Linked DNA regions of Homo sapiens: all the other regions are linked to region 6. The links come from fine-mapping of genetic effects on gene expression. A gene starts in region 6. Each other region holds a variant in brackets. All regions are shown on one strand. Distances are from middle to middle. Region 1 overlaps RBM6 (RNA binding motif protein 6). Region 2 overlaps PFKFB4 (6-phosphofructo-2-kinase/fructose-2,6-biphosphatase 4). Region 3 overlaps RHOA (ras homolog family member A). Region 4 overlaps USP4 (ubiquitin specific peptidase 4). Region 5 overlaps ARIH2 (ariadne RBR E3 ubiquitin protein ligase 2). Region 6 holds the start of WDR6 (WD repeat domain 6). Region 7 has its middle 14 kb from the start of LAMB2.

Region 1 (4,207 bases), 990 kb after region 6:
CTTTTCTCTCTGTCCACAGATTCTGTGTGCTCCTCTGGGCCACAGTAGTTACTTCTTTAAGCACAGAAAGGAAACTTAGGGCTTTGCCAGTTTTAGTATTAGTTCTCTATGTTTTTCATCCGGGCAGCTATGGAGAGGGTTGCTTTCCACACACCTGGGTACTCCATTGATATGTTCTGTAGAGGTAATCAACACACTAGAGAGTACACCTGTTTGTTCCATGGCTAACCCTTTCTGATTGTAGACATGCATTTGAGTGTTTGCAGTGGATATTTGGTGCTAACAGGTGTCTTAGTTCCTTCTGTTATTCTGTAATGTTTCCCAAGAATATTCAGAGCTGTTTATAAAATGCAGAGTGATTTATGTATTAGGTGTTCAATGAGTTTGATCAAGAAGATTCACTTGAAAGGAATTAACTAACAAAGCAGTTTCCATTGTTAATAGGATATGCATGCTGTTTCTCTAAAGTATTTTTATTTCTTCAAAGAGTTATTAAGCAGAGGAGACTGATTTTGTGGTAAGTTTGGAGGGGTTAGTTTTAATCCACGTTGGTCAAAACTAAAAGTAGATTAGAAAATCTATTTCTCATCCTACAGTAGTGCTGAGGTTTCTAGTAGATTGTTTTTCTTCTTCCTAGTCATTTTCTGAAACTCAAAACAAGAATCAACCTATACCATTGTAATGTTTCACAGTTAACTTGGAGTATTTAACAAGTCTAAAATCAAAGTTTATTGTTATTAGTAAAACATTTTGAAGCCATTCATTTCATGTGACAAGGAATCTTATTTCACCAAATGTGGTATGTTTTTAAACTTATACTTTCTATTGTTCTAGTTTTGTTGATCTTTGATATTGATGCAGTGATATCAGTTTCCTATTGTTATATATACTTTGTGGTCAAAATTATCATAGGGTTTTGTGTTTTTCTTTGCCTGAGTTTTGCTTCTCATCTGAACATCACATCTTTTTCTTGCGGTTCCATTTACACAGTGTGATTCCTAGAGATGAGCTTCTTTATCCTCTGAGGCAGTGGAGGAAGCATGGAAGCCACTTGGGGAGCACTGCATTGACAAGTGTATTTTTGTAGTCACATGGTGGCAGTGTCAGGGAAATTATAGGACTGGTTAGATTCTAGTTCAGCAACCTATAAATCCCAGGACTTCCCAGTCTCGTGAGTCATACAACTCTCAGGCCTGTGCTGCAAATGACACTTGCTTAGGAGTAAGGTGAAGGGTATTTTATAGCTCTAATGGTTTGTACAGTTCTTAAACATGTATTGATTGCTAACAACTGCTGTCTTTCTCCCAGCTTGCCCCACCACCAGTCTTTGTGCATAAGCACAATTTTGGACATAGTTATTTGTACTTATTTATGCTTTTACACCTTCTTCCTTTTATAAAGATTTTAGCTGGTTTATGACTTGAGTTGAAACAAGGAAAAAAAGAGGAGACCTGAAATGGTCTGTCCCCTGCCAACCAGAAGCCTCCTGTGGTATCCAAACAGAATAGTTGCCTCAGTCTGTCAGCACTTCTGTCTTTGAAGGTGGTTTCTGCTTGAAAAGTGGTGACTATTAGCATAGCCTGGGGATAATTGCTTTTTTTTCTTCTCTCGGGATAC[CT/C]TTTTTTTTTTTTTTTTCCAGATACTTTCTTGCTCTTGTCGACTTTGTTTTTCCAGAAGATTTAGCCTGTGGTTAAAATGTTTCGGGTCCCCACGTGAACTCTCTGTGGGATTACCCAATTCTGGGGTACCTTCACCAGATCACCAGTGCTAAAGAGGGCAAAGGATCTTCTTGGTTAATAGAAAAGGCTGTTTTGGAATGAATCTCAAAGTCCAGAAACATCGAGACTTTTCTTCAATACTTTTTTCTATTTGGGGTAGCAACTTTACCTAGTGTAGGGGAGGGAGGGGTTAGTTGGGAGGGCTTGTGTTTAAGGGGTTCAGAAACAGGGGATTTAAGTGTGTCTTTTGTGTTTGCAAGGCACTAACACCACTCCCGTCTGTATTTAAATGCTGTCCCCAGGTTACGACTATGGCTATGTCTGCGTGGAGTTTTCACTCTTGGAAGATGCCATCGGATGCATGGAGGCCAACCAGGTTGCTTTATACTTCGGTCAAATGATGCTGGAAGGATATATTTTTTTATATATGGGGAGGGAGGGTTTCAAATGATTTTACTTTGGAAAGGTACAAGAAGTCTATCTGTGGAGCATACTGTATTCCAACCATCGGTTGTGAGGAAAATCTTTAAAAAGGCTGGAAAGCTTTCTCTACAAAACTTAATGGGCACAGAGTGCATTTTAAAAGCTAGAGCCCAGTTGCTTTTGGACTAGATTCCAAAGACAATAGTTGGAAAAAAAAAAAAAAGACACATCTGGAGTGTTTCCTTTTGGAGTGTGACTGAGATGGTAATCCTGATGCAAAGAATGATCCTTGATTGTCTGTGACCCCAAGGATCTGCCTAGCACAGAAATTCTAGGTCAATAGTTACACCCAGACCTAGGGTGAAGACCTCTGATGGTGACTTCTGTGGCATCAGATCCTGCCTGCAGGGGCTACTTCCAAAAGAGAGCTATCAGGGAAGAGAGAGGAGTGGATTGTTGGTGTCTATTGCATTCATCATTGTTTTTTGCCAATTGGAGTTGCATACTCAAGTCCTTGGCTGCGTATAGTCAGAGCTGGTGAATCAGAATCTGTACTCACCTTACGTTTGAACTATCTGGAGTTACTCAGCTTGCCACCTAGATTTTTCATCTATGTCTTTAATAGAACCCTACCTGGTAGTTTTGAGAGGAATTAATAAATAGGTAGAATCCTTCTTGTTATGGTGCTTCCTTGGGGAAAGTTGTTTTCTTTGGGTTGTTTCAGTTCCTCCATCTGTAAAGTAGGAAAAGAAACTTAGGAATATAGTTTGATGTGTTTTTTTTTTCTTTTTTTTTTTTTTTAATGTACCCACTGCCTATACTTAACAGTGTGAATACAGTGGGCCCAGAATCTTTCTTTCTTTCTTTTTTTTTTTTTGAGACGGAGTTTTGCTCTTGTTGCCCAGGCTGGATTGCAATGGTGCGATCTCGGCTCACTGCTACCTCCACCTCCCTGGTTCAAGCGATTCTCCTGTCTCAGCCCCCTGAGTAGCTGGGATTACAGGCATGCGCCACCACGCCGGCTAATTTTGTATTTTTAGTAGAGATGGGGTTTCTCCATGTTGGTCAGGCTGCTCTCGAACTCCAGACCTCAGGTGATCTGCCTGCCTCGGCCTCCCAAAGTCCTGGGATTACAGGCATGAGCCACCGTGCCCAGCCAGGCCCAGAATCTTAAAAGAAGGCTCTGCCAGAGAAGAGTAGTTATTAGATGAGAACTCTTCTTCTTCTGTAGCCTGATGCTTTGTTCAGCTTTGTTTAACTCAGTGTGGCTCATTATACGTACTTTTCTCTTCTTGGCCAAGTTCTCCTCTTATGGGTATGGAGATGACATGCTCTAAATGCTTTGGGAGCAAGCACTCATTAGAGAAGACTTTTGATGTATCCTTATCTTGTTAGTAGTTTAAGCTTGTCAGATCCTTAAAGAATGACAGGCTTAGGACCATATCCCCTAGACTTAAGAGGATTCTCATTGACCATTTGTTCAGTGTCCATCACTGAATCACTTACCAAATACAGTTGACACTCTGTATCCACAGGTTCCACACCCATAGATTCAACCAAATGCTGATTGGACATATTCAGGAAAAAAATGCATTAACACTGCAACAATAAAAAATAATACAGGCCAGGAGTGGTGGCTTACTCTGTAATCCCAACATTTTGGGAGGCCCGGGTGGGAGGATTGCTTGAGGCCAGGAGTTTGAGACCAGCCTGGGCAACACAGGGAGACCCCATCTCTACAAAAAATAAAAGTGAAAAAATTAGCCAAGTGTGGTGGCTATCAACTTGGGAGGCTAAGATGAGAGGATTACTTGAGTCTGGATTGAGACTGCAGTGAGCTGTGATCACTCTGCTGCACTCTAGCCTGGGGTGACAGAGTGAGACCCCGTCTCAAAAAACAAAAAAGTACAGTTAACTATTTATATAGTCTTTATTAGGTATTAGATATAAGTAATCTAGAGATGGTTTAAAGTATGTTGGAGGATGTGTGTAGGTTGTATGCAAATACCATGTGATTTTATATAAGGGACTTGAGCATCCTGAGATTTTTGTGTCCTTGTGGGTCC
Region 2 (4,207 bases), 490 kb before region 6:
GAGGTTAGTCACCACCTGAATCCTGCAAAGTTGCCTCTCCCTCAGACACCTTGGCATAGTTGGAGAAGGCAGAAACATAGCTGCTGGCCACCCCAAACCACCCAGAAGCAGCCCAGCGACAGCCATCCTCTGCCCTGACACACTGGGAGGAGCACAGGCGAACACCCGGCAATGCCCTGCCCCATCTTGCCCACAGAGGAGCCCCGCCTACAACCCACTTCCCGGAAAGCCAGCTCCAGGGCAGGAAGTATGGACAGCCCATGATGTTCTGAGGCATGGGAAAGAGAACACCCAGCCCCTTGTCTCCACCTTCCCGACCCCAGATGCAGGTGACAAAGACAATACCAGAATAGGCCGGGTGCAGTGGTTCACGCCTGTAATCCCAGCACTTTGGGAGGCCAAGGCGGGTGCATCACCTAAGGTTGGGAGTTCAAGACAAGCCTGACCAACATGGAAAAACCCTGTCTCCACTAAAAATATAAAAACTAGCTGGGTATGATGGTGCATGCCTGTAATCCCAGCTGCTCGGGGAGGCTGAGGCAGGAGAATTGCTTGAACCCGAGGCGGAGGTCGTGGTGAGCCAAGATCGTGCCATTGCACTCCAGCCTGGCCAACAAGAGTGAAACTCCGTCTCCAAAAAATAAAAATAAAAAAAGAAAAAGAAAATACCAAAACACTGGTCAGCATACTGTCACCACAGCCTCACGCAGCCACTACATCCTTGACCCAGCTCCCGGGGCCTCCTCCCCAAGAATGCCGCATTTGGAGCCCACATTCCCAGGGACCCCAGAATCCTTCCCTTAACAGTGCTCCACTCCAGCTGCACTGCCCCCTCCACATCTGCCTCATGTTCAGGGCCAAGGGCCCCATACCCCAGGTCAGCCCAGGGAAGACCCAGGCCGCCTGCCCATGTATGCCAGGCCAGGACTCACTCCAGGGCAGCATAATTCCTCTTCAGTGAGAGTGAACATGGGGGTGGAAGCTGAACGAAGGATCCCAACACAGACCTGCGAGGAAGACCACAGCACCAGGTGTCGACAGAGCAGGCCAGAAAAAAAACACTTCAGAAATGGAGAACTGGCTACCAAATACAACCTGAGATTATTTTTTAAAAAGTATTTATTGCAAAGAATGCTGGACACAGTGTTGCATGTGGCTGAGATTCAATACCATCCATTCTGGGGAACTCGGGAAAATATCTGCAACATGGGCACGCCAGCCAGCATGGCCGAAATGTGGCAGCCAATCAGCTACACCTCAGCCCATGCGGAGACCATGCCAGGGCAGAGGCCGGGGGGTTGCCCCCACTCATGCCCTGATCCCTGGATGTCCCTCTACCCTGTCCCCAGTCCTCGTAATGCATCCAGTCCAGCAACTCCTAACTCCCCTCTGTACACAGAGAGAAAAGGCCTCGGTGGTCTCACCTCAGATGACATCCAGAGGTACATGCACTGTTGCTGACCAAGGGAACCCACTATGGCTAACAAATGAGTGTGTCCAGGTGACAAAAGTCACCAAAACTCCAAAATACACAGAAGCAAAGGCTGCAGTCCTAATGTCCCAAAGGCATGGTCCTTGGGCTCTGGGTCTAAAGGGCTTGGGGCTCTGACAGATGAGTCTGGAAGGATCTTGCCCCGGCTCCGCCTTGGACATCTCTTAGCAGAGCAGCACACAAGGATGAGAGACCACCGGCCAGGGCCAGGGACGCTAACTTCTCTCAGGGACAGGTGGCATCTGCAGGCTGCAAAGCCCTGGGAGGCTGGAAAGATGTGCTACCCTCCAGGCACAGGCCAGGAAAGGCTCCGGACACAAAGGACTTGGGATCCAGGGGCCTGGCTTCCCCAGAGTCCACCTGTGGACAGCAGGGCACCCGATTACAAGTCCAGACACTTTCTGACCCAGCCCCACAACTTGCCAGCCAGTCTGTTTGCCAGCTGTAAACAGACTGCCCAGGCTGCCTCTCTGGGACCAAAAGAACTCAGGGGCATGACAGACACTGGACTTCACAAGGCCATTTTCACCAGACTCACGTGCACATGAATGGAAGGCTGTGCTGCGGCCGGGAAAATCCTCCCTTGCCCAGGGACTGCCTATGGGTTCTGCCTTCTCCCTTCCTCAGACCCACAGGCAGAAGTCAACAAACACCAGAGAAGTTTTACAGGACCATACAAGTGTTTCTGAATTATTTATGGCAAATGCATGTTTCTGCCACCAGTGTACATTCCTGTGTGGACACGGGCAGCAACAGGGGAGAGGCCGCCTCCCCATTGGCTGCCAGTGTCCACAGCCAGGGAAGGGGAGAGGGGGCGGCAGCCTCTCCCTC[G/A]AGCACTTCGGTGTGTGCACCAGGAAGGTAACTTCCTGCCCTGTCTTGAAGTGGTTTCACTGTGAGAGCAGGCCTGAAGGGGCACCCCTGGCCACCAGCTCCCCTAAGCATACCTAAGTAGCCGGGTACATGCACAACTGGGGAGGGGCGACCACAACTGCCCCCCTGCCCTCACGTTTCTGTGCATCCCAATGTGCTGAAGCAAGCGCATTGCTTTCATGAATGCCCACAACTAAGGGTGACATGGATACAACGGCCTGGCCAGTGGCTGCCCAGGAAGCATCTGCTGTGGTTGGGGCTCTAGTTCCTGGTGGGTAAGGATGGGAAGGGCTCTCCCTCTCACCAGAGGCAGCAGAAGCTCAGGGCCCCATGAAGACCTGGCCTCTGGCTCAGGAAGTGGCCACAGAGAGGATGGTAGAGGCCCTGTGGAGAGTCACCAGGTCCATGCTGGGCAGCTGGGCCACAGTAGGAACATCACAGCAAGCACTTTCCTTTCACATTGTAGGGTTTCACACTTCACAAAGCCAACTGAGCTGGCGAGAGTGAACACCTAAGAGCTGCGCCGGAAGAAACTGGGGCTGGGCAACCTCCGCGCAGCCCATGCAGATGCAGTCTGGTCAAGTGACTCTTAGCAGCAGGTCAGGAGCCACGCACAACCTTGTCGCCGACTGTCAACAAAGAGCCAGGTGGGCTGGGGTGGGGGCTCTGGGTTCCGCCAGCCATGTGTGGCTTCAAGAATATCCCTGCATGGCATGGTGACTATCACACACACTGGAGGGCCTGGAATGACCCCCTCTGCAGAGAGCAGTGCCTGCCTAGTGGTCACAGTGGATGAACATGGTCACTGGTGAGCAGGCACCGTGACAAGGGCTTCCTCTGGAGGTCTTGAGATGTCCACGTTCTGTACAATAAAAACACAGAGCGTTCACTCCATGGCAGGAATAGATGAGATGCCTGCTGTCTGCCGTCCTCATCACTGTGGTTCATCAGGCTTCACATTCTCACTGTAGCAGCCACAGCCGCAAGACTCTAGACCACAAGCTTCCCTAAGAATACATGGCCAAGAGCTTCGTGCCACATAGCGGGTGGATGGACAATAGAACAAAGGTGCGGTGGAGGATGCCACCTCGTTTCCTGCTCCACTGCAGCCAGGTCAGGCAATACCCAAAGCAAGGCCACTCCCACCTCCTATCTCAGGGCTGAGTCAATTGAGGAGGAACCCCTGGCTTGGGGATTTTATCCTCATCTGTGGGGCAGGGAAGGGGTTCAACTCCTGGGGGTGCCTCCTTCCTAGTTTAAAGTGTTGGCACGCAGGTGTCAGAGGTGCCCCAGAAGCCTATGGGCATTTCCTGGTCTGCAGCCTGGTCTGTCCCCTCAGAACTGGGGTACAGGGCCTCCTGAAGCCCTCAGCTATAGAAGGACCCCACCAAACTGCAGAGCTCAGTCCCATCCTTGGCCTGTCGGGCTCAGGGAGTCTCAGGCCTGAGGAATAGGGAATCTGAAACTTCCCTTAGCTCTCTGAGGCTGTCTTATGTGCCCCAGAGCCTGGTGGCCCCTCCTCCCAGCTGTGGGCCCCGGAACCATCACCTGCAGGAGCAGGTCACTGATGACCTGAGCTGCTGCCCCATGCAACATGACATGCCCAGATCTTCAGGGAGAGAGACATGGCCCCCATGGCCCACAGCCTGGGCTCATAGGACCGGCCCCTGGAATTGTAGGGGCAGGTATAATTCTTACTGCTGGGCAGGCTTCCTGAGGCGCCCCTTTTCCACCACAGCCTGCCCCAATGGATGGGCCAGAAGGGAGCCATCCAGGAACCTGGGGTTAGTAGCGGTTTGCCTCTCAGAAGCACCCACCCATAGTGGGCAGAATGACCGCCAGCCA
Region 3 (4,207 bases), 390 kb after region 6:
GAGGCCGAGGTGGGCGAATCAGGAGTTCGAGACCAGCCTGACCAACAAGGTGAAACCCGTCTCTACTAAAAATACAAAAAAATTAGCTGGGCATGGTGGCACGTGCTTGTAATCCCAGCTACTCGGGAGGCTGAGGCAGGAGAATCGCTTGAACCCGGGAGGCGGAGCTTGCAGTGAGCCGAGACCGCGCCACTGCACTCCAGCCTGGGTGACAGAGCGAGACTCCATCTCAAAAAAAAAAAAAAACAAAAAAAACGAAACTACAGAAGCATACTGCCCCCCTCTCCCCCAACATCTTCCCTAGTCTAACCAAAACTGGCCACCCCCCACCACCTCCTGTTTCTATAAGGAGATAAAACAAGATTATCTGTGTTCAGGCCAAGGGTTGATTCCCACTACTCATAACATTTCCCCTAAACCTCATTTTAAAGGCCAAGAGTTACACCCTCACCACCAGAGGCCTCAGTGGCTTCCTGGCTACTCTAAATTCTTCTTTATCCCTGAACTCCTACAGCACTTCGTCTTTCAGTGCTGTTTCATGCCTATGTGAGCTTGAATCACTGAATACTTTGTTCTGGTACAGAGAAGACTGTATCAGGACTTGGTGCCATGCGTCTGTAATCCTAGCTACTCAGGAGGCTGAGGTAGCTGGATCCCTTGAGCCCAGGAGTTCAAGGCTGCAGTGAGCTATGATCATGCCACTGCACTCCAGCCTGGGTGACAGAGCAAGATTGTAGCCAAAAAGGTGAGGTGGGGGGATGGTATATAAAAGGGTTAATTTCCAGCCGGGCACGGTGGCTCACGCCTGTAATTCCAGCACTTTGGGAGGCCGAGGCGGGCGGATCACGAGGTCAGGAGATCAAGACCATCCTGGCTAACACGGTGAAATCCCGTCTCTACTAAAAATACAAAAAAATTAGCCGGGCATAGTGGCGGGCGCCTGTAGTCCCAGCTATTCGGGAGGCTGAGGCAGGAGAATGGCGTGAACCCGGGAGGCAGAACTTGCAGTGAGCTGAGATTGCACCACTGCACTCCAGCCTGGGCGACAGAGACTCCGTCTCAAAAAAAAAAAAAAAAAAAAGAGTTAATTTCCTACCTTTTAGAAAGGAAACTTTCAAAAGCCCAAATTACTAATATTAGACACTAGGGCCTTCAAATTTACTTCCTCTAAGTTACTACCCTTCTTTTCTGAATTGACCTTAGGAAGTTACTTCTTTCCAAACAAGACCTACAAGTAACAACGCATAGTATGTAAAACTCCTGACCAGGTGTGGTGGCTCACAACTGCAATCCCAGCACTTTGGGAGGCAGGAGGACTGCTTGAAGCCAAGAGGTGGAGACCAGTCTGGGCAATACAGTGAGACCTCATCTCTCAAAAAAATATGAAAACGGACAGGCAAGGTAGCTTATGCCTATAATCCCAGCACTTTGGGAGGCCATGGCGGATGGATCACTTGAGCCCAAGAGTTTGACACCAGCCTGGGCAACATGGCGAAACCTCTGGGAGGCAAAGGTTGCAGTGAGTGGAGATCGGGCCACTGCACTCCAGCCTGGGCGACAAGAATGAAACTCTGTCTCAAAAAAAAAAAAAAAAAATTGGGGAAATGAAGTTGAAAACATAGAGCTGTTTATTTTGTTTACTGACTGCATGGGAAATTCCTGATGAAAGGGCCAAACTACCATCCATCCATCTGTCCATAATGAACTTGAGCCTGGTATAGGTTGAGTACTGCTTATCCAAAATGCTTGGGCCCAGAAGTGTTTCAGATTTCAGAATTTCTTCAGATTTTGGAATATCTGCATTATACTTACTGGTTCAGTATCCCAAATCCAAAAATTGAAAGTCTGAAAGGCACCACTAGGCATTTCCTTTGAATGTCATGCCAGCGCCCATCTTGAAGCATTTCAGATGCTCAACCTGTACTGCCATTATTTGGCCATCCTGATCAAGTGGCTGCCAAGCTCTTAGTTCAAGAGCTTTCCTTTCTGTAGCAGTAAGGGCACTTGGAGATCAAGAGCAGCAGGAATAAGGCACATGGTGGTAAGCAATGAAGAAAACCTTCAATTTACTGCCAAGTGAAAATCACTTCAAACTCAAGTTCTTTGGGGAAAGACAGGCAAGGAACAATCCCTGAGGTAACATACCGTCAAGTTTCCTAAATAAGAGCATGAAATCATTTATCTCAAAATGTAAATATTATAAGGTTAACCTTCAATGGATGCACAGAATCAGGATTTGACTTTGTTTGGCCTAATTCCAAACTTACA[T/C]TGCCTCTAAGACAATGCGTATCTAGTAAAACTGACAAAGAAAAATGAACCATTAGGTACCTCCCAGTGAGCTGGCTAAGAATTTATATATGCTTATTGTAAACCTTATTGCAGGAGTTTACTTTTACCAAGTATATATATTTCTTAAAATAAAAAACTAGGCCGGGTGCAGTGGTTCACACCTATAATCCCACCACTTTGCGAGGCCAGAGCTCAGGAGTTAGAGACCAGCCTGGACAACATGGCAAAACGTCATCTCTATAAAAATTAAATTAATTAACTAGGTATGGTGGTGCTTGCCTGTAGTCCCAGATGCTCATGAGGCTGAGGCAGGAGTATTACTTGGGCACAAGAGTTAGAGGCTGCAGTGAGCCACGATAGCACCACTGCACTCCAGCCTGGGAAACAGATCAAGACTCTGTCTCAAAAACAAACCAAAACTTGTCATATTCTAGGAAGCCAAGCAAATAAAACGAATGAACAAAAAAACTAGTCTAAAAAACTTTAGGCCAGGAGCAGTGGCTCACACCTGTAATTCCAGCACTTTGGGAGACCGAGGCAGGAGGATCACAAGGTCAGGCCTTTGAGACCAGCCTGGCCAACATGGCGAAACCCCGTATCCACTAAAAACACAAAAAATTAGCCGGGCGTGGTGGCGGGTGCCTGTAGTTCCAGCTACTCGGGAGGCTGAAGCAGAAGAATCGCTTGAACCCGAGAGGCGGAGGTTGCAGTGAGTTGAGATCGTGCCACTGCACTGCAGCCTGGGCAACAGAGCGAGATTCCATCTCATAAAAAAAAAAAAAAAGAAACCCGCCGAGCGCGGTGGCTCACGCCTGTAATCCCAACACTTTGGGAAGCAGAGGCAGGCGGATCACAAGATCAGATCGAGACCATCCTGGCTAACAGAGTGAAACCCCATCTCTACTAAAAATACAAAAAGTTAGCTGGGTGTGGTGGCACGCACCTGTAGTCCCAGCTACTCAGGAGGCTGAGGCAGGGGAATCACTTGAACCCGGGAGGCAGAGGCTGCAGTGAGCCAAGATTGCGGCACTGCACTCCTAGATGACAGAATAAGACTCCGTCTCAAAAATAAAAATAAAAATTTAAAGCCTTGAGGAAATGCTCTTTAACTCGACTGAGTGGCAATTACTTGGGTATACACATTCATCAAAATTTATCAAACTGGCGGTTTGTGGTGGCTCATGCCTATAATCCCAGGGCTTTGTGAGGTTGAGACGAGAGAATCACTTAAGGCCAGGAGTTCAAGACCAGTCTGAGCACATAGTGAGACCCCTCTCTCTACAAAAAAAAAAATTACAAAATAAAAATGTAGCCAGGCGTGGTGGTGCACACCTGCAGTCCCAGCTACTCGGGAGGCTAAAGCAGAGAATTCTTGGGCCTAGGAGGTCGAGGATGTAGTAAGCCATGATTCCGACACTGCACTTCAGCTGGGTGACAGAACAAGGCCCTATGTCTAAAAAAAATAAGAACAAAAAAATTATCAAACTATCATTTAAAGTATGTGCATTTTATTGTATGCAAATTAAACCTCCATGAAGGTAATTAAACCTCAGGTGATTCCAATTTGGGGAACTGGATTCCAAGTTTGGGAACAGTGGAGTCTAGGAACCACTGTTCTTAAGTACCAGGAACCAAGTAGTAAGCCCTGTTTTATTCCAAGAAATCTTAGGGTGCTACTCCCACTACCCTCCCACCACCCCCGAAAAAAGGTACTACAAACTGTAACCTGAATAGTGAAAGTTGAAGATAGCTGGACTCAGTGGCTCATGCCCGTACTTGCAGCACTTTGGGAGTCTGAGGTGGGAGGACTGTTTGAGCCCAGGAGTCTGAGACCCAACCTGGGCAAGACAGCAAGACTCCATCTCTACAAAATGTAAAAATATTAGCTGGGCGCAGTGGCACATACACCTGTAGTCCC
Region 4 (4,207 bases), 320 kb after region 6:
GGGAAAAGGACAGAGCGCAACATTATTCCCATAACTACTGGAACACAGATATAATTTCCAAAACTTATACCATAACGAAAATTAATCACTTCTTTATCTCCCTAAGAACATGCACAGTTCCACATACCACATGAACATCTCTTGAAACAGATGTGTCCTTAGTCCAAGTTTTGTAGCTGAACAATTCACCCAGCAAGCTCCCAGGGCAACAATGAGTAACAGGCCACTGGGCAGAAACAGGTAGAATCAAGCTATCACTTTTTTTTTGTTTTTGTTTTTTTTGGGTCAGAGTCTTGCACTGTCACCTAGGCTGGAGTATAATGGTGCGATCTCAGCTCACTGCAGCCTTCACCTCCTGGATTCAAGCGACTCTTGAGCCTCAGCCTCCCGAGTAGCTGAGATTACAGGTACCTGCCACCATGCCTAGCTAATTTTTGTATTTTTAGTAGAGACAGGGTTTTACCATGTTGACCAGGCTGGGCTCGAACTCCTGGCCTCAGGTGAGCCACCTCCCACGGCCTCTCAAAGTGCTGAGCTTACAGGCATGAGCCACCATGCTCAGGCCTCAACTATCACTTTTAAGTCATATAAAACCCCATGCCTTAGCCTTCCTCTTATCCATCAAGGCCTCTAACTACATGTGGAGAAAATAAAAGCGTGACAAAAACAAAGCAACCTCCTGGTAGAGCAGCAACCTTAGACTTGATCCCTCATATCCCTTCCTCCTTTTCTCATTCTCCACGAGCAGAGGCTCGCCACCTTGCTGAGATATCCTGACAGGCTTCCCTTAGATGCTGCCCTGCTACCAAAAGCCACGGTCTTCATCCAGAAGCATGAACTCTGGATATACAAAATAGGCATTGTTCATCTGAATCAGAACAATTTTTCTTAGTACAAGTACTGCCTTAGGAAAGACTGTCTCTTTTGCACATGTGAGCCTACAACAAGGGAGAAAAAATTCACTTACTTTGACTGCAAGGTCTGCCTGGGCCATGTGCCATCTTCATTTTGAGGCTCAATTACTAGCACCTGAGTGAAAGGGGAAACCAAATGAGGAGAGTTCAAACCACCGCACTTCCAACATGCTTAGAAGCAAAAAGTATCTGGCCACACACCCTGGGCAGAGCTACCTGCTGGGGAATGGCCAGGGCCCTCCTACCTGACCCTGGTATAGCCCAGCATCCTGGACAGTGTTGTCTAGCTTGCTCAACTGCTCGTAGGTGTTGCTCATGTATTTGTTCCAGAGCCGTGTTTCACGCTCCGCAGGGATGTTGAATAGCTTCCGCATCTCTTTCTCGATGGTTGCTAGGAACAGGCAGAAATATCACTTGGGGCTTTGTCCACATGCAAGGCTAAAGACAGCCATGGCAAACTAATGCTCATCCTCTTTCTTGTCAGATGCTCACAGGTGCTCTGGATCAACCCCCTGATACCTCTTAAAATCAATCATCTCCCATGGGTGGCCTCTTGCACTCATATGCCTGGAAAGTATCCCTATGCTTCTTTGCTAACGTGTGTCTCTCATTTATGGCGCAAAAGCAACATAGAAAGCGAGAAAGCTTATCTTTGGAGTTAACTCAGATATGGCTTCAAAAGCTAGCTCCACCATTTTCTGGCTGCGATTTGTTTTTTTTTTTAAGAGACAGGATCTTGCTCTGATGCCCAGGCTGCAGTGCAGTGGTGGGATCGTAGCTCACTGTAAACCTTGCTGAGATTTTTAAATAAGTTATTTTTAAACTTCTTTGGATCTACATTTCCTTATCTTCATTATCATAGACAAATGGGCAAGGAGCAGGCCCAGTGTTCTCTCCATAAGAATTCCTGGAGGAATAGGCCCCCAGGTCAGGACTGGCAACTACAGCTCGAGATGATTTGGGTAACAAATCTAAAGAGGGC[A/G]TATAAAATAATGCCCTCTTCCCTCCCATCAGCCACAATGTCCTACACTCTCTCACCACATACCAGGGACCCCAGCCCAGCCTCTCACCAATGGTGTCTGCCTTGCTGAAATGGCAACTCAGCACATTGGTGGGGTCACTGTTCTCACAGAGCTTCAGTTCCAGCAAATACACCTCGACTTTGCAGTGCTTGACAAACAGGCCATGCTCCACAACCTATGAACAAGAGGCAGGGGTGAGGGCATAGCGGTTTTGCAGCTGGGCAGTCTTGGATGTAGCATATCTTATCAGAAGCAAAAAGCAGAAAACTCATGATAATCCATTTCCTTTACTGATCAAGGGATCAAAAGAACAGATTTTTAAAGCTACCAGTACCTGGACAAAGAGTTTAAAAATATTTTTTCTGGCCGCGTGTGGTGGCTCACGCTTGTAATCTCAACACTCTGGGAGGCCGAGGTGGGTGGATCACTTGAGGTCAGGAATTTGAGACCAGCCTGACCAACATGGTGAAACCCCATTTCTATGAAAAATACAAAAATTAGCCGGGCATGGTGGCATGTGCCTGTAATCCCAACTACTCAGGAGGCTGAGACAGGGGAATCGCTTGAACCCAGGAGGTGGAGGCTGCAGTGAGCCAAGATCGCTCCACTGCACTCCAGCCTGGGCGACAGAGCGAGACTCTGTACCCCGCAAAAAAATATATATATATTTTTTTTCTACCCACTAAGACCAAGAGCATCTTGATGATATTAGAGAGAAGCCTATTCTTCACTGTTTTTTGTTTTTGAGATGGAGTCTTCCTCCGTCAGCAGCCTGGAGTGCAGTGGTGCGATCTCAGCTCATTACAACCTGCACCTCCTGGGTTCAAGAGATTCTCCTGCCTCAGCCTCCCGAGTAGCTGGGACTACAGGGGCCCACCATCATGCCCAGCTAATTTTTGTATTTTTAGTAGAGACAGGATTTCACCATGTTGGCCAGGATGGTCTCGATCTCTTAACCTCGTGATCCGCCTGCCTCAGCCTCCCAAAGTGCTGGGATTACAGGCGTGAGCCACCATGCACGGCCTGATCAAAGACTCTTTTTTTTTTTTTGCAACCGAGTCTCACTCTGTTGCCAGGCTGCAGTACAGTGGGGTGATCTCGGCTTACTGCAACCTCCGTCTCCTGGGTTCAAGCAATTCTCCTGCCTCAGCCTCCCGAGTAGCTGGGACTACAGGTATGTGCCACCACACCCAGTTAATTTTTGGATTTTTAGCAGAGACGAGGTTTCACCATGTTGGCCAGGGTGGTCTTGATCTCCTGACCTCGTGATCCACCCGCCTCAACCTCCCAAAGTGCTGGGATTACAGATGTGAGCCACTGCGCCTAGCTCAAAGACTCTTAAGCATAGAGGGAAAAGCAGTATCATAAAGGTTTTTTAAGATAAACAAGATGCAGGACATTAGCTATATGTCCATATGCCCCCAGTGAACTTTCTCTCATAGAATTTTCCAGAAAGTTCTCTCACAGCGCTGCTGGGCACATTCCAAGCCACTGGGCAGCTCTGATGTTTAGAGGCCACTCATGATAATATTCTGGGTGAGCAACTTCACTCACAACCACAATTTCCTAAAGAGAACCAGAAACAGGCTGGGCGTAGTGGCTCACGCCTGTAATCCCACCACTTTGGGGGGCCGAGTCGGGCGGATCACAAGGTCAAGAGTTTGAGACCAGACTGGCCAACATGGCGAAACCCCGTCTCTACTAAAAATACAAAAATTGGCCAGGCGTAGTGAAAGGCGCCTGTAATCCCAGCTACTCAGGAGGCTGAGGCACGAGAATCACTTGAACCTGGGAGCCAGAGGCTGCAGTGAGCCGAGATCGTGCCGTTGCACTCCAGCCTGGGCGACAAGTGCACAAGACTCCATCTCAAAAAAAAAAGAGATCCAGAAACAAGGCCTCAAGCACCACTATTCAACCACTGAGGTATGTTCATTTTCCTAGCAAACACTAGTCAGTGTCCAACAGAAAGCACCTGCAGACAGTGACCAGCAGGTGGGACAATTCACATAACTCACTTTTCTGACGATGGGTTGCTGGCCTTCTACACAGCCGTACCAGTTTAGTAGTTTATTCCACGCCTCGGTAGGGACCAATACATAGTCCAATTCATCAATTAAGTGTTCTTTCAAGGTCTGACTCTCAGGATCTAAAAAAGGAAAAGAGCACATAAGTCACTGCTCTTTACCCCAGAAATGATGGTTTTACATGATTTCCATGTACTTTTCAGAAATAAGAAAATTATTTACAGAAAGAAACAGGAATGAAATTCCA
Region 5 (4,207 bases), 82 kb before region 6:
TTTAATTTTTAGAAATGGGAGCATTTATAGTTAACATATCAACTTAGATATAGTGAGTGTTTTTTTTTTTTTTTAAGATAGAGTTTCCCTCTTGTTGCCCAGGTTGGAGTGTAATGATGCAATCTTGTCTCACTGCAGTCTTTGCCTCCGGGGTTCAATCCATTCTCCTGCTTCAACCTCCTGAGTAGCTGGGATTACAGGCATGTGCCACCACGCCCAGCTAATTTTGTGTTTTTAGTAGAGACGGGGTTTCTCCATGTTGGTCAGGCTGGCCTTGAACCCCCGACCTTAGGTGATCCACCCGCCTCGGCCTCCCAAAGTGCTGGGATTACAGGTGTGAGCCACCGCGCCTCGCCAATATTTTTATTATATAAAAATGTGACTGTAGGCTGGGCACAGTGGCTCTTGCCTATAATCCCAGCGTTTTGTAAGGCCAACGCAGGAGGATCGCTTGAGGCCAGGAGTTTGAAACCAGCCTGAGCAACATAGTAAAACCCTGTTTATACAAAAAATAAAATTAGGTATGGGGGTGGCATATGCCTGTAGTCCCAGTTACTCAGGAGGCTGAGGCAGGAGGATCTGTTGAGCTCAGGAGTTGGAAGCTGCAGTGGGCCATGATCATGTTTTTATATCTCAGACTGGGTGACAGAGTGATACTATGTCTCAGTACTCCATAGTCTTTTAGACTGGTTACAAATTCTTTTTCCTTTTGGTAGACGTGAGTGTCACTATGTTACCCAGGCTGGTTTGGAACTCCTGGTTTTGAATGATCCTCCAGCCTCAGCCTCCCAAAGTGTGGGGATTATGATACAGGCGTGAGCCACTGATACAGATGTGAGCCACTGTACGTGGGCCTTTTTTTTTTAAGTAGAAGATTATTTACCTGAATTATTATTATTATTATTATTATTTTTGGAGACAGAATCTCTCTGTTGCCTAGGCTGGAGTGCAGTGGCACGATCTCACTGCAGCCTTGACCTTCCAGGCCCAAGCAGTTCTTCGATGTAGCCAGGACTACAGACGCATGACCGCTATGCCTGTCTTATTTTATTTATTTGTTTATTTTTTGTGTGTGTGACAGTGTCTCACTCTTGCCCAGGTTGGAGTGCAGTGGCATGATCTTGGCTCACTGCAACCTCCTCCCTGGTTCAAGTGATTCTCCTGCCTCAGCCTCCCAAGTAGCTGGGATTGCAAGTGTGCACCACCCTGCCAAGCTAATTTATTTTTTATTTTTTATTTTTTTATTTTTTCAGATTGAGTCTCGCTCTGTTGCCCAGGCTGGAGTGCAGTGGTGCAATCTCTGCTCACTGCAACCTCCGTCTCCCGAGTTCAAGCAGTTCTCCTGCCTCAGCCTCCTGAGTAGCTGGGATTACAGGTGCATGCCATCATGCCTAGCTAATTTTTGTATTGTTAGTAGAGATGGGGTTTCACGTGTTAGCCAGGATGGTCTGGATCTCCTGACCTCGTGATCTGCCTGCCTCGGCCTCCCAAAGTGCTGGGATTACAGGTGTGAGCCACTGCGCCCAGCCTAATTTTTGTATTTTTAGTAGAGATGGGATTTTGCCATGTTGGCTAGGCTGGCCTCAATCTCCTGGCCTCAGGTGATCTGGCCACCTTGGTCTCCCAAAGTGCCGGGATTTTTTTTCTTTTTTTCTTTTTTTTTTTTTGAGACGGAGTCTCGCTCTGTCGCCCAGCCTGGAGTGCAGTGGCGCGATCTCGGCTCACTGCAAG[C/T]TCCGCCTCCCGGGTTCACACCATTCTCCTGCCTCAGCCTCCCCAGTAGTTGGGACTGCAGGCGCCTGCCACTATGCCCGGCTAATTTTTTGTATTTTTAGTAGAGACGGGGTTTCACCATGTTAGCCAGGATGGTCTCGATCTCCCGACCTCGTGATCCACCTGCCTCGGCCTCCCAAAGTGCTGGGATTACAGGCATGAGCCACCGCGCCCAGCTGATTTCTTTTTTTTTTTTTTTAAATGTGTTGTAGAGACATGGTCTCACTAGGTTGTTCAGGTGGATCTTGACCTCCTGGCCTCAAGGGATCCTCTCATCTCAGCCTTCCAAAGTTCTGGGATTATAGTTGTGAGCCACACCCTCAGTCTTTGTTTTAGATTATGGTTGGTTGTTTTTTTTCAGACAGATTACCTACTTCAAGTAGACTTTATATTTGCTTTTGTATTTAATCAAGATTTGTTTATATAAATTGTTTATGTACTGTTAAATCCAAATGCTCTTACACTTTAAGGTTCTATTAGTTTTAGATTTTTTTTTTTTTTTTGAGATGGAGTCTCACTCTGTTGCCAGGCTGCAGTACAGTGGCGGGATCTCGGCTCACTGCAACCTCCGACTCCCTCGTTCAAGTGATTCTCCTGCCTCAGCCACCTGAGTAGCTGGGGATTACACGCACGCACCACCACGTATAGCTAATTTTTGTATTTTTAGTAGAGATGGGGTTTCACCACGTTGGCCAGGATGCTCTTGATCTCCTGACCTCGTGATCCACCCGCCTTGGCTTCCCAAAGTGCTGGGATTACAGGCGTGAGCCACCGCACCTGGCCTAGTTTTAGATTTAAATCGCTAGTTGATATTGTTCCTTTCAGCTCATCAGTTGAAATGGTAGTTGTGTAGAAAAGTTAATGGGTGTTTGCCACAATCTTCTGTGAGTTGAAGTTAGGGTTTGTGACTGTTTCACTTTCTCAACTAGTATTCTCTTTTCGTTTATATGTAATTAAGTAACATTTCGCTGTTTGCGGGCTTTTCTTTTTTGAGATGGAGTTTCCCTCGTGTGTGTGTGTGTGTGTGTGTGTATGTGTGTACGTGTGTGTGTGACGGAGTTTCGCTTTTATTGCCCAGGCTGGAGTGCAGTGGCGCAATCTCAGCTCACTATAACCTCCGCCTCCTGGGTTCAAGCGTTTCTCCTGTCTTAGCCTCCCAAGTAGCTGGGATTACAGGTGCCTGTCACCACGCCTGCTTAATTTTTTTGTATTTTTAGTAGAGACAGGGTTTCACCATATTAGCCAGGCTGGTCTCGAACTCCTGACCTCAGGTGACCCACCCATCTCAGCCTCTCAAAATTCTGGGATTACAGGCGTGAGCCACCGCACCCGGCCAATGGAGTTTCACTCTTGTCATCCAGGCTAGAGTGCAGTGGCGCAATCTTGGCTCACTGTAAACTCTGCCTCCCGGGTTAAAGTGATTCTCCTGCCTCAGCGTCCCGAGTAGCTGGGATTACAGGTGCATATCACCACACCTGGCTAATTTTGTATTTTTAGTAGAGATGGGGTTTCGCCATGTTGGCCAGTCTGGTCTTGAACTCCTGACCTCAAGTGATCCACCCACCTTAGCCTCCCACAGTGCTGGGATTACAGGCATGAGTCACCACACCCGGCCAGTAGAACTCTTTAAACCTGAAAAATCAGTCAACTTTGCAGACTAGAGGAGGATGTTGAACACCTATGTGTGTTTTTTTTTTCTTTACCAACTATGCACCTATTTTTCAGACACCTAAAAGTAATGTCTGTGAAACAGTGGTTTTCTTTTTCTACATATTACAGCAGGAAGTGTTCCTATTTATGTACTGTCTGTATCAATACTAACGGGGCATGATAAGCAAAATTTTAAACTTTGGTAGTTAAACCTTTATGTTGCCTCCCCTCTGGGCTGCCAGCTGTGGGGATGTGCTTCTCCCTTAAGGACTTTGGCAAGAATAACAAGTTCATTGGAATTTGACTTTCTGACATAGAGCAGACAGCCTTGCCCTGTCATGCCAGGCCTTTCATGTGAAGTTACCATTTATTAGCTGCTTCTGTCTCTCCAGGGAAGGATTTCCCTTTTATAAGCCTGGGCCAGGGGGATGATAGTAAGATTCCCCATGTGATACCAGAGTTGGAATAGGCTGTAGTGAGATTAGGGCCAGGACTGTCCCATTTTGATTCTTGAATGGTTTCTGTTACAACTTGTCATGGGGAAAAAGTAACACTTATTTTTTTTTTCCTCCCTTAGAAGACAAAAATACTAATGCATTTGAGAAAGCGGTAGTTTTGGGGGGAGGGGGAAAAAGCAACTGCTTTCCTGATCTGCAACTTGGCTGGATGCTAAGATGTCAGTGGACATGAATAGCCAGGGGTCTGACAGCAATGAAGAGGACTATGACCCAAATTGTGAGGAAGAGGAAGAAGAAGAAGAAGACGACCCTGGGGACATAGAGGACTA
Region 6 (4,207 bases):
TTAGAGAAGCTGAAGCTGTGCCTCCCTCCCCTGTCAAGCCAGTTCTTTCCTCTTCAGGTGGCTGTTCTGGCCCAGCCCCTTCCCATCCCCAAGGAGCCCTTCAGCGCGCCCTGTTGCTTCTGCTAGCCTACCTTTCCCTGCCAGGCCCTTGCTCAGGGCCATGGCATTTAACTAAGTGCACCTGTGATCTTGGCCAAAAAACCATTGCAACTCACAGTAAGAGACTGGGTTTCGGGGAAGGAGGGGCTAGGGACATTTTGGCACTGGCCTGCCCTATTGTCTCCCATCCTAGTCTGTCCTGGTCCCTGGCAACAGGAACCTGGGCAGCTTATCCTGCCCACAGGTAAGCCCCTGGGAGCATCCACAACTGGGGACCTGCTCAGTGCCCCCCCTGCCTTACAGCTACATGACAGTGCTGTTTTATTTGAACAACGTCACTGGTGGGGGCGAGACTGTTTTCCCTGTAGCAGATAACAGAACCTACGATGAAATGGTAAGGGTCAACTGGGCTATTACTCTTGTGGGCTGGCAGGGGCTTAGACAAGTGAAGTACACACCTCTCCAGGTCTAAGGATGTGGGCCCAAATTATTCCTTGGGCATATCTGGTTGGTTTCCCTTTGGTCACCCTTGGCTGGCCTGGCCATAGAGTGGGGACAGGTTGAACACCCCACCACCCTGCTGCCCACAGAGTCTGATTCAGGATGACGTGGACCTCCGTGACACACGGAGGCACTGTGACAAGGGAAACCTGCGTGTCAAGCCCCAACAGGGCACAGCAGTCTTCTGGTACAACTACCTGCCTGATGGGCAAGGTGAGGGCCTATGGCCAGGCCTGGGGGGGGTGCCCTGAGTACAGCTTCCCTTTACCCAGCCCCCGTCTGCCACAATGGAGGGCTGTTTCTGGCTGCTTTCCAAATAGTTTTCTGCTCCTGGTGCCTCCCAAAGGCCATCCTTAGTGACTTTAGCAGACTGCCCCAGGACCTGTACTGCTTATTGGGTTATATCCATCCCTATCATTCCCTGATGCCCCAGCCTTCCTACTCCCTGGGGCTTGGGACACATGTCCCTTGCTAACCCAGGATGGGAAGGGATATGGACAGGCCCAACAGCAAGAAAGCTGGTTTCAGAGGGCCAGTAGTGTTGACTATACATTAGTGGGCTGAGATGAGGAGCCTCCAAGGAAGCTTTAGGTCTGGGTGTTTGCTACACAAGGAATGCATAGCTGGACCCACCTTGGTCATGCTCTTGGTGCCTATGAGGCCAAGCTCTGGCCAGCCCAGCCTAGGATCTCACGTCACCCTCCTCTTCTAGGTTGGGTGGGTGACGTAGACGACTACTCGCTGCACGGGGGCTGCCTGGTCACGCGCGGCACCAAGTGGATTGCCAACAACTGGATTAATGTGGACCCCAGCCGAGCGCGGCAAGCGCTGTTCCAACAGGAGATGGCCCGCCTTGCCCGAGAAGGGGGCACCGACTCACAGCCCGAGTGGGCTCTGGACCGGGCCTACCGCGATGCGCGCGTGGAACTCTGAGGGAAGAGTTAGCCCCGGTTCCCAGCCGCGGGTCGCCAGTTGCCCAAGATCAGGGGTCCGGCTGTCCTTCTGTCCTGCTGCAGACTAAAGGTCTGGCCAATGTCTTGCCCCACCCCGCCAGCCGCGATACGGCGCAGTTCCTATATTCATGTTATTTATTGTGTACTGACTCCATCTGCCCCGTCAAATAAAAAACCACAAGGTTCGAGCCGCCGGGCCCGACAAACTCCGGGTCGGCGAAACAGAGTCCGCGATAGGTGCAGCGGGCTGGCAGCTGGGAGCGCCCCGCAAGCGTCACGTGAGGGGGCGAGGGGCGGGATGCCCCTCCGCGGGCCCCGCCAATGATGAGCTGGATTGCGTGGGACGAAGGGTCGTCATTGGACAACCGCCGCGGGCGCCCTGGTCTCTGCTACCTGTAGCTGAGGGCGCTGTTGATGGGCAGCGCGGCGCGCTGGGAAGGCTCGTTCTCGCGAGAGTTCAGCTCCCTTCTTAGCCGTGGCTGCCTCAGCACCTCGAGGATCGACATGGACGCTCTCGAGGACTACGTTTGGCCGCGGGCAACCTCGGAGCTTATACTCCTCCCAGTGACGGGTCTGGAGTGCGTGGGGGACCGGCTGTTGGCGGGTGAGGCTTGGCTTGAGGCACGCCTGGTGGAAAGGGGGAAAGAAACAGCGCCTCCCAGGGGCGGTGCCACAGGGACAAAAGGGGTGCCCTGAGGAGAAGGACGGGCAGCAGGTTGAGGCCGATCGGAGGTGGGAAGGGAGCCCCGGAGATGGCGGGGACGAGGGCCAACCTGAAGAGGGCGGGGCCCGAGAGACAAAGCTGATGTGGCCGCCGCGGCGCTTCATAAACTTCAGCCCGCGTGGAAAGGGCGGGTGGAACCGCGGGAGGGTGCAGGGGAACGCGGCCGCGCGGAGGCGGAGGCGGAGGCCCGGGAGCTGAGGGTTGAGGGGGTGTGCTCCCTTCTAGGAGATGGGCGGGGGCTTGGCCTCTCCGAAGGAGACGGGGCCGAGCTGGGGGGGGCGGAGGGAGGAGGAGGAGGAGGAGGCGGAGGCGGCCCCGGCCCCTCAGGGGGTGTGGCCTCTTGGGGAAGGCGGGGCCGGGAGAGGGCAAGGGTGTGGCCTCTCGAGGGCGGGATGAGTCTCTTCCCCCTAAGGTGGGGGTGAAGATCCTCTGAGGAGGGTGGCGTCGCGGAAAACGGCGGATAAGACCTTTCCGAGTAGGGGGCGGTGCCCGGGGAAGCAGGGGCTGAGACCCCCTCCTGAGATGGTTGAGGTCCAGGAAATCAGGTGTGGAGGTCCCTCCAAGGAGAACCGGGTCGCAAAGGACAGGCGAGGCCTGGGACCTGAGGTGTCAGAGTCCAGGCTGGTCTCGAACAGTCATTACATGAAGCCACTAATGACCCATGTTGGTGCTGCTGAGTTGTATAAGGGTCCTGAGGCAGGGCCTTGGCGGTCAGGCCTTGAGTGAGTTGCCACCAGTCCTAAGAGGGTGTGTGTATGGGGTGGGGATGATCCAGTTTTGATCTGGTGTGGGGGTTCTTGGAGCGCGGAGTTCCTACCGCGAGCTAAACTCCTAAGGCTCCTTGAGGGGGAACAACGAAGCAGAAACTCAAAGAACCACAAGAGTGAACTAGGAAAAGGGGTGAGTTCCTGGCAAGAGGGTAAGCATGCCAAAGGCCTTGAGGCTGGAAGAATCTGTCATTTTGGGGGAAGGAGGGAATTCTTGTGAAGTTAGAGCAGGAATGGAGTCTGGGAGGAAAGGAAGCTGGACAAGCGAGCAGAGGCCACATTGTTTCAGGCCTTGATCTGACTTTATCCCTAAGGGCAGTGGGGAGAACCTATTGAAGGGTTTTAAGGTGGGGAATAACTTGGGAAATGCAGTTTAAGAAGCTCTGCAAGTGAATTCACCTACTTCTGTGGCTTCCAAAGTGACTTTTATATAGCTACAATTCTGTGTGTGTGTGTTTTTTGTTTGTTTGTTTGTTTGTTTTTGAGACAGTCTTCCTCTGTCACCCAGGCTGGAGTGCAGTGGCACGGTCTCGGCTCCCTGCAACCTCCGCCTCCCAGGTTCAAGTGATTCTCCTGCCTCAGCCTCCGGAGTAGCTGGGATTACAGGTGCCCACCACCATGCCCAGCTAATTGTTGTATTTTTAGTAGAGATGGGGCCTCACCATGTTGGCCAGGCTGGTCTCAAACTCCTGACCTCAAGTGATTCGCCTGCCTCAGCCCCCCAAATTGCTGGAATTATAGGCATGAGCCACCATACCCGGCCTCTCTAGCCTCTTCCTGAGCTCTTCATTTCCTGTTCCATCCACCATACTCAATGCTCTTGCCCATCTCAGGGCAATCATACATGCTGTTTTCTCCACCAAGAAAGCTGCAAACCCTCCCATTGCTCCCCACCCCCCCCCCCCCGCCCCAACATTTCCCAGTCCCCCTCTTCCGCCTCCTTTCCTCTGGCTAACTGCTGCTTATCCTTGAATCCTAACTCTAAATATTGTGTCCTCAAGTTGGCCTCCCCTTACACTCACCCAGTCTTGTTAGATTAGACCAGGGTTTTCTCAATCTTGCCTCGATTGACCTTTTAGACCAGATAATTCTTTGTTGGAATGCTGTTTGTGCATTGTAGGATGTTTAGCATCATCCCTGGCCTTACTTGCCAGTAGCACAAC
Region 7 (4,207 bases), 140 kb after region 6:
GCCACTTCAAGCCTGGCACATACACTCACTGAGGCCCATCCCCATGGAGCAGAGCTGAGATGCTGCAGAACAGGCAGGCACAGGCTTCAGGCATCGTGCTGGAGAGGCCTGGCCTTGCTGCCTCCATGAGCCTGCCTGGTGGAACTCCTGTAAATGCCTGAGGCCCCAGGGTACAAAGACCCCAGCCCAGGCAACGTGTTCACCCATGGCAGGTGCACAAGCTAGCAAGAGGGTCAAGGGAAGCCAGCAAGAGGCAATCAGCCCCACTCATTAACACTTACTTGCCACCTTTCTTGGATTGGCCCTCATCCAAGGGGGACATCCCTACCCCCACCCCTCAGCCCCCCTTCTGTTTCCTAATCTCTCTCTTTTTTTTTTTTTTTTTTTTGAGACAGAGTTTTGCTCTAGTTGTCCAGGCTGGAGTGTAATGCTGTGATCTTGGCTCACTGTAACCTCTACCTCCCAGGTTCAAGCAATTCTCCTGCCTCAGCCTCCCAAGTATCTGGGACTACAGGTGCATGCTACCATACCTGGCTAATTTTTTTTTTTTTTTTTTGGTAGAGGTGGGGTTTCGCCATGTTAGCCAGGATGGCCTCAATCTCCTGACCTTGTGATCCGCCCAACTCGGCCTCCCAAAGTGCTGGGATTACAGACACCCGCCACCACGCCCAGCTAATTTTTGTATTTTTAGTACAGACGGGGTTTCACCATGTTCACCAGGCTTCTCTCAAACTTTTGACCTCAGGTGATCCCACCTCGGCCTCCCAAAGTGCTGGGATTACAGGCGTGAGCCACCATGCCCGGCCCCTTGAACCCCTAATCTGTTTTGAGTCAATTTTTCCTCCATCTCCAGTGGCCCCAATCTAGTAGAGAGAATGCCATCTCTCACTCAGAATCATTTCGGGAGCTTGCATCTGGGCCTTCCACCAAACAATAAATTCTCCCCACATCTCTTCCCTGCTTAAATCTCTTCCATGGTTCCCCACTTCCCCTGGGATAAAGGTTAAGCCCCTCTCCTGGCCCAAAAGGTCCTATGAGATCTGGCACTTGCCTATTCTTATCTTCTGTCTTTTGCATGAGCTGTTTCCCCTGCCTGGGCTCCTCTGCCTACACTCTCCATCTATGTAGGTCTTAATCCTCTTGCTGCAACTCCAGGCCTCTATGATCCCCTGCCTCCCAGCCTCACTGCACCAATCCTGTCTTGCTATAATTTATGTCTCAGAGACTGGGCGCAGTGGTTCACGCCTGTAATCTCAGCACTTTGGGAGGGCGAGGCAGGTGGATCACCTGAGGTCAGGAATTCAACACCAGTCTGGCCAACATGGTGAAATCCCGTCTCTACTAAAAATACAAAAAAAAATTAGCTGGGCATGGTGGCAGGCGCCTATAATCCCGGCTACTCCAAAGGCTGCAGCAGAAGAATCGCTTGAACCCAGGAGGCAGAGGTTGCAGTGAGCCGAGATCGTGCCATTGCACTACAGCCTGGGCAACAAGAGCGAAACTCTGTCTCAAAATAAATAAGTAAATAAACAAACAAAGAGGCCGGGTGCAGGTGGCTCATGCCTGTAATCCCAGGACTTTGGGAGGCCGAGGCGTGCAGATCACCTGAGGTCAGGAGTTCAAGACCAGCCTGGCCAATGTGGTGAGACCCTCTCTCTACTAAAAACACAAAAATAAAATAAAATAAAATAAAACAAAACTAGCCAGACAAGGTGGCCAGCACCTGTGATCCCAGCTACTGAGGAGGCTGAGGCAAGAGAATCGCTTGAACCTGGGAGGCAGAGGTTGCAGTGAGTCAACATTGTGCCACTGTACTCCAACCTGGGTGACAAGAGCAAAACTCCATCTCA[A/AAAAAT]AAAATAAAATAAAATAAAATAAAATAAAATAAAATAAAATAAAATAAAATAGGCCAGGCGTGGTGGCTCACGCCTGTAATCCCAGCACTTTGGGAAGCCGAGGCGGGTGGATCATGAGGTCAGGAGATCGAGACCATCCTGGCTAACACGGTGAAACCCCATCTCTACTAAAAATACAAAAACAAAAAATTAGCTGGGCGCAGTGGCAGGCACCTGTAGTCCCAGCTACTTGGGAGGCTGAGGAAGGAGAATGGTGTGAACGTGGGAGGCGGAGCTTGCAGTGAGCCAAGATAGCGCCACTGCACTCCAGCCTGGGTGACAGAGCAAGACTCCATCTCAAAAAATAATAATAATAATAAAATAAAATAAAATAAAAAAATAAAATTGGCCAGGCACAGTGGCTCATGCCTGTAATCCCAGCACTTTTGGAGGCCGAGGTGGGCGGACCATGAGATCAGGAGATGGAGATCATCCTGGCTAACACAGTCAAACCCCGTCTCTACTAAAAATACAAAAAAATTAGCCAAGCATGGTGGCGGGCGCCTGTAGTCCCAGCTACTACTCAGGAGGCTGAGGCAGGAGAATGGCATGAACCCAGGAAGCGGAGCTTGCAGTGAGCCAAGATTGCGCCACTGCACTCCAGCCTGGGCAACAGAGTGAGACTCCATCTCAAAAAAATTAAAATAAATAAAATAAAATTTATGTCTCTGAGCCAGGCGCAGTGGCTCACACCTATAATCCCAGCACTTTGGGAGGCCAAGGTGGTCAGATCACCTGAGGTCAGGAGTTCGTGACCAGCCTGGCCAATATGGTGAAACCCCAACTCTACTAAAAATACAAAAATTAGCCGGGTAGCCAGGTGCGGTGGCTCAAGCCTGTAATCCCAGCATTTTGGGAGGCCGAGTTGGGCGGATCACAAGGTCAGGAGATTGAGACCATCCTGGCTAACATGGTGAAACCCCACCTCTACTAAAAAAAAAAAAAAAAAAAAAATTAGCCAGGTATGGTAGCATGCGCCTGTAGTCCCAGCTACTCAGGAGGCTGAGGCAGGAGAATCGCTAGAACCTGGGAGGCAGAGGTTGCAGTGAGCAGAGATCACATCACTGCACTCCAGCCTGGGCAACAAGAGAGAAACTCCATCTCAAAAAATAAATAAATATATAAAAAAATTTTAAAAAGGCCAGGCGCAGTGGCTCACACCTGTAATCCTAGCACTTTGGGAAGCCGAGGCGGGCGGATCACGAGGTCAGGAGATCGAGACCATCCCGGCTAACACAGTGAAACCCCGTCTCTACTAAAAATACAAAAAATTAGCCAGGCATGGTGGCGGGCGCCTGTAGTCCCAGCCACTCGGGAAGCTGAGGCAGGAGAATGGCGTGAACCCAGGAGGCGGAGCTTGCAGTGAGCCGAGACAGCGCCACTGCACTCAGGCCTGGGCAAAAGAGTAAGACTCCGTCTCAAAAAAAAAAAAAAAAAAAAATTAGCCGGGTGTGGCAGTGGGCACCTGTAATCCCAGCTACTCAGGAAGCTGAGGCAGAACTGCTTGAACCTGGGAGGCGGAGGTTGCAGTGAGCTAAGATTGCTCCATTGCACTCCAGCCTGGGTGACAAGAACGAGACTCCCTCTCAAAAAAAAAAAAAAAAAATTATGTCTCTGCCAGATGTAGGGTGCAGCCCCTAGGACATCACTGAATGCAGATGGATGAAGCTTCCCTCAGTCCTCCACACTCCCTCTTGGTCTGCCATAGCCTGTGTCGTGGAGTAGCAGCATGTTCCTGGATCAAAGCAGAAAGTCTGTATAGAACCACAACCCTGCAGTGAATGGGGAGAGGAGAAGAGGTGAGGTGATGCTGCAATGATCATGTGGTCCCAGAGATGCCTCCATGCTTCCTTCCTTCCTTCCTTCTTTCCTTCCTTCCTTCCTTCGTTCCTTCCTTCCTTCCTCCCTCCCTCCGTCCTTTCTTTCTTTCCTTTTTCTTCTTCTTTTTTTTTGATGGAGGCTCGCTCTGTCGTCCAGTCTGGAGTGCAGTGGCGCGATCTCGGCTCAGTCCCACCTCAGCCTCCCGAGTAGCTGGGAGTACAGGTGTGTGCCACCACGCCAGGCTAATTTTTGTATTTTTAGTAGAAATGGGGTTTCGGCCGGGTGCGGTGGTTCATGCCTGTAATCCCAGCACTTTGGGAGGCTGAGGCGGGACAATCACAATGTCAAGAGATCGAGACCATCCTGGCCAACATAGTGAAACCCCGTCTCTACTAAAAATACAAAAATTAGCTGGGCATGGTGGTACGCGCCTGTAGTCCCACCTACTTGGTAGGCTGAGGCAGGAGAATCGCTTGAACCCAGGAAGTGGAGGTTG

What was found.
Region 1: its variant is fine-mapped to the expression of WDR6 in whole blood (INTERVAL, PIP above 0.99).
Region 2: its variant is fine-mapped to the expression of WDR6 in whole blood (INTERVAL, PIP 0.95).
Region 3: its variant is fine-mapped to the expression of WDR6 in whole blood (INTERVAL, PIP above 0.99).
Region 4: its variant is fine-mapped to the expression of WDR6 in whole blood (TOPMed, PIP above 0.99).
Region 5: its variant is fine-mapped to the expression of WDR6 in whole blood (TOPMed, PIP above 0.99).
Region 7: its variant is fine-mapped to the expression of WDR6 in whole blood (INTERVAL, PIP above 0.99).

Annotation. Positions count from the first base shown.
Region 1 is chr3:49,997,420-50,001,626 of GRCh38, forward strand. It overlaps RBM6 (RNA binding motif protein 6), which reads left to right. Exons shown (of 21, transcript NM_005777.3): 6 at 2,021-2,094. Among named protein-coding and RNA genes, the nearest start is that of RBM6, 59 kb to the left of the region's middle. The variant CT/C (reference allele first, on the strand shown) is at 1,618.
Region 2 is chr3:48,516,583-48,520,789 of GRCh38, forward strand. PFKFB4 (6-phosphofructo-2-kinase/fructose-2,6-biphosphatase 4) reads right to left here. Exons shown (of 14, transcript NM_004567.4): 14 at 1,102-3,224. The coding sequence ends at 3,165. Among named protein-coding and RNA genes, the nearest start is that of SHISA5, 15 kb to the left of the region's middle. The variant G/A (reference allele first, on the strand shown) is at 2,324.
Region 3 is chr3:49,399,981-49,404,187 of GRCh38, forward strand. All of the region lies in intron 1 of RHOA (ras homolog family member A), which reads right to left. Among named protein-coding and RNA genes, the nearest start is that of RHOA, 9.9 kb to the right of the region's middle. The variant T/C (reference allele first, on the strand shown) is at 2,269.
Region 4 is chr3:49,323,735-49,327,941 of GRCh38, forward strand. USP4 (ubiquitin specific peptidase 4) reads right to left here. Exons shown (of 22, transcript NM_003363.4): 3 at 3,952-4,082; 4 at 1,985-2,111; 5 at 1,160-1,305; 6 at 968-1,029. Among named protein-coding and RNA genes, the nearest start is that of USP4, 14 kb to the right of the region's middle. The variant A/G (reference allele first, on the strand shown) is at 1,897.
Region 5 is chr3:48,923,465-48,927,671 of GRCh38, forward strand. ARIH2 (ariadne RBR E3 ubiquitin protein ligase 2) reads left to right here. Exons shown (of 16, transcript NM_006321.4): 3 at 3,998-4,207. The coding sequence starts at 4,095. Among named protein-coding and RNA genes, the nearest start is that of ARIH2OS, 6.2 kb to the left of the region's middle. RefSeq lists enhancers at 695-1,195, 1,196-1,696, 3,470-3,529. The variant C/T (reference allele first, on the strand shown) is at 1,732.
Region 6 is chr3:49,005,375-49,009,581 of GRCh38, forward strand. It overlaps WDR6 (WD repeat domain 6), which reads left to right and starts at 2,017. Exons shown (of 6, transcript NM_018031.6): 1 at 2,017-2,157. The coding sequence starts at 2,058. P4HTM (prolyl 4-hydroxylase, transmembrane) reads left to right here. Exons shown (of 9, transcript NM_177939.3): 7 at 403-493; 8 at 690-813; 9 at 1,313-1,779. The coding sequence ends at 1,533. RefSeq lists an enhancer at 795-1,783 and silencers at 1,922-1,971, 2,512-2,691.
Region 7 is chr3:49,144,752-49,148,958 of GRCh38, forward strand. No RefSeq gene overlaps it. Among named protein-coding and RNA genes, the nearest start is that of LAMB2, 14 kb to the left of the region's middle. The variant A/AAAAAT (reference allele first, on the strand shown) is at 1,851.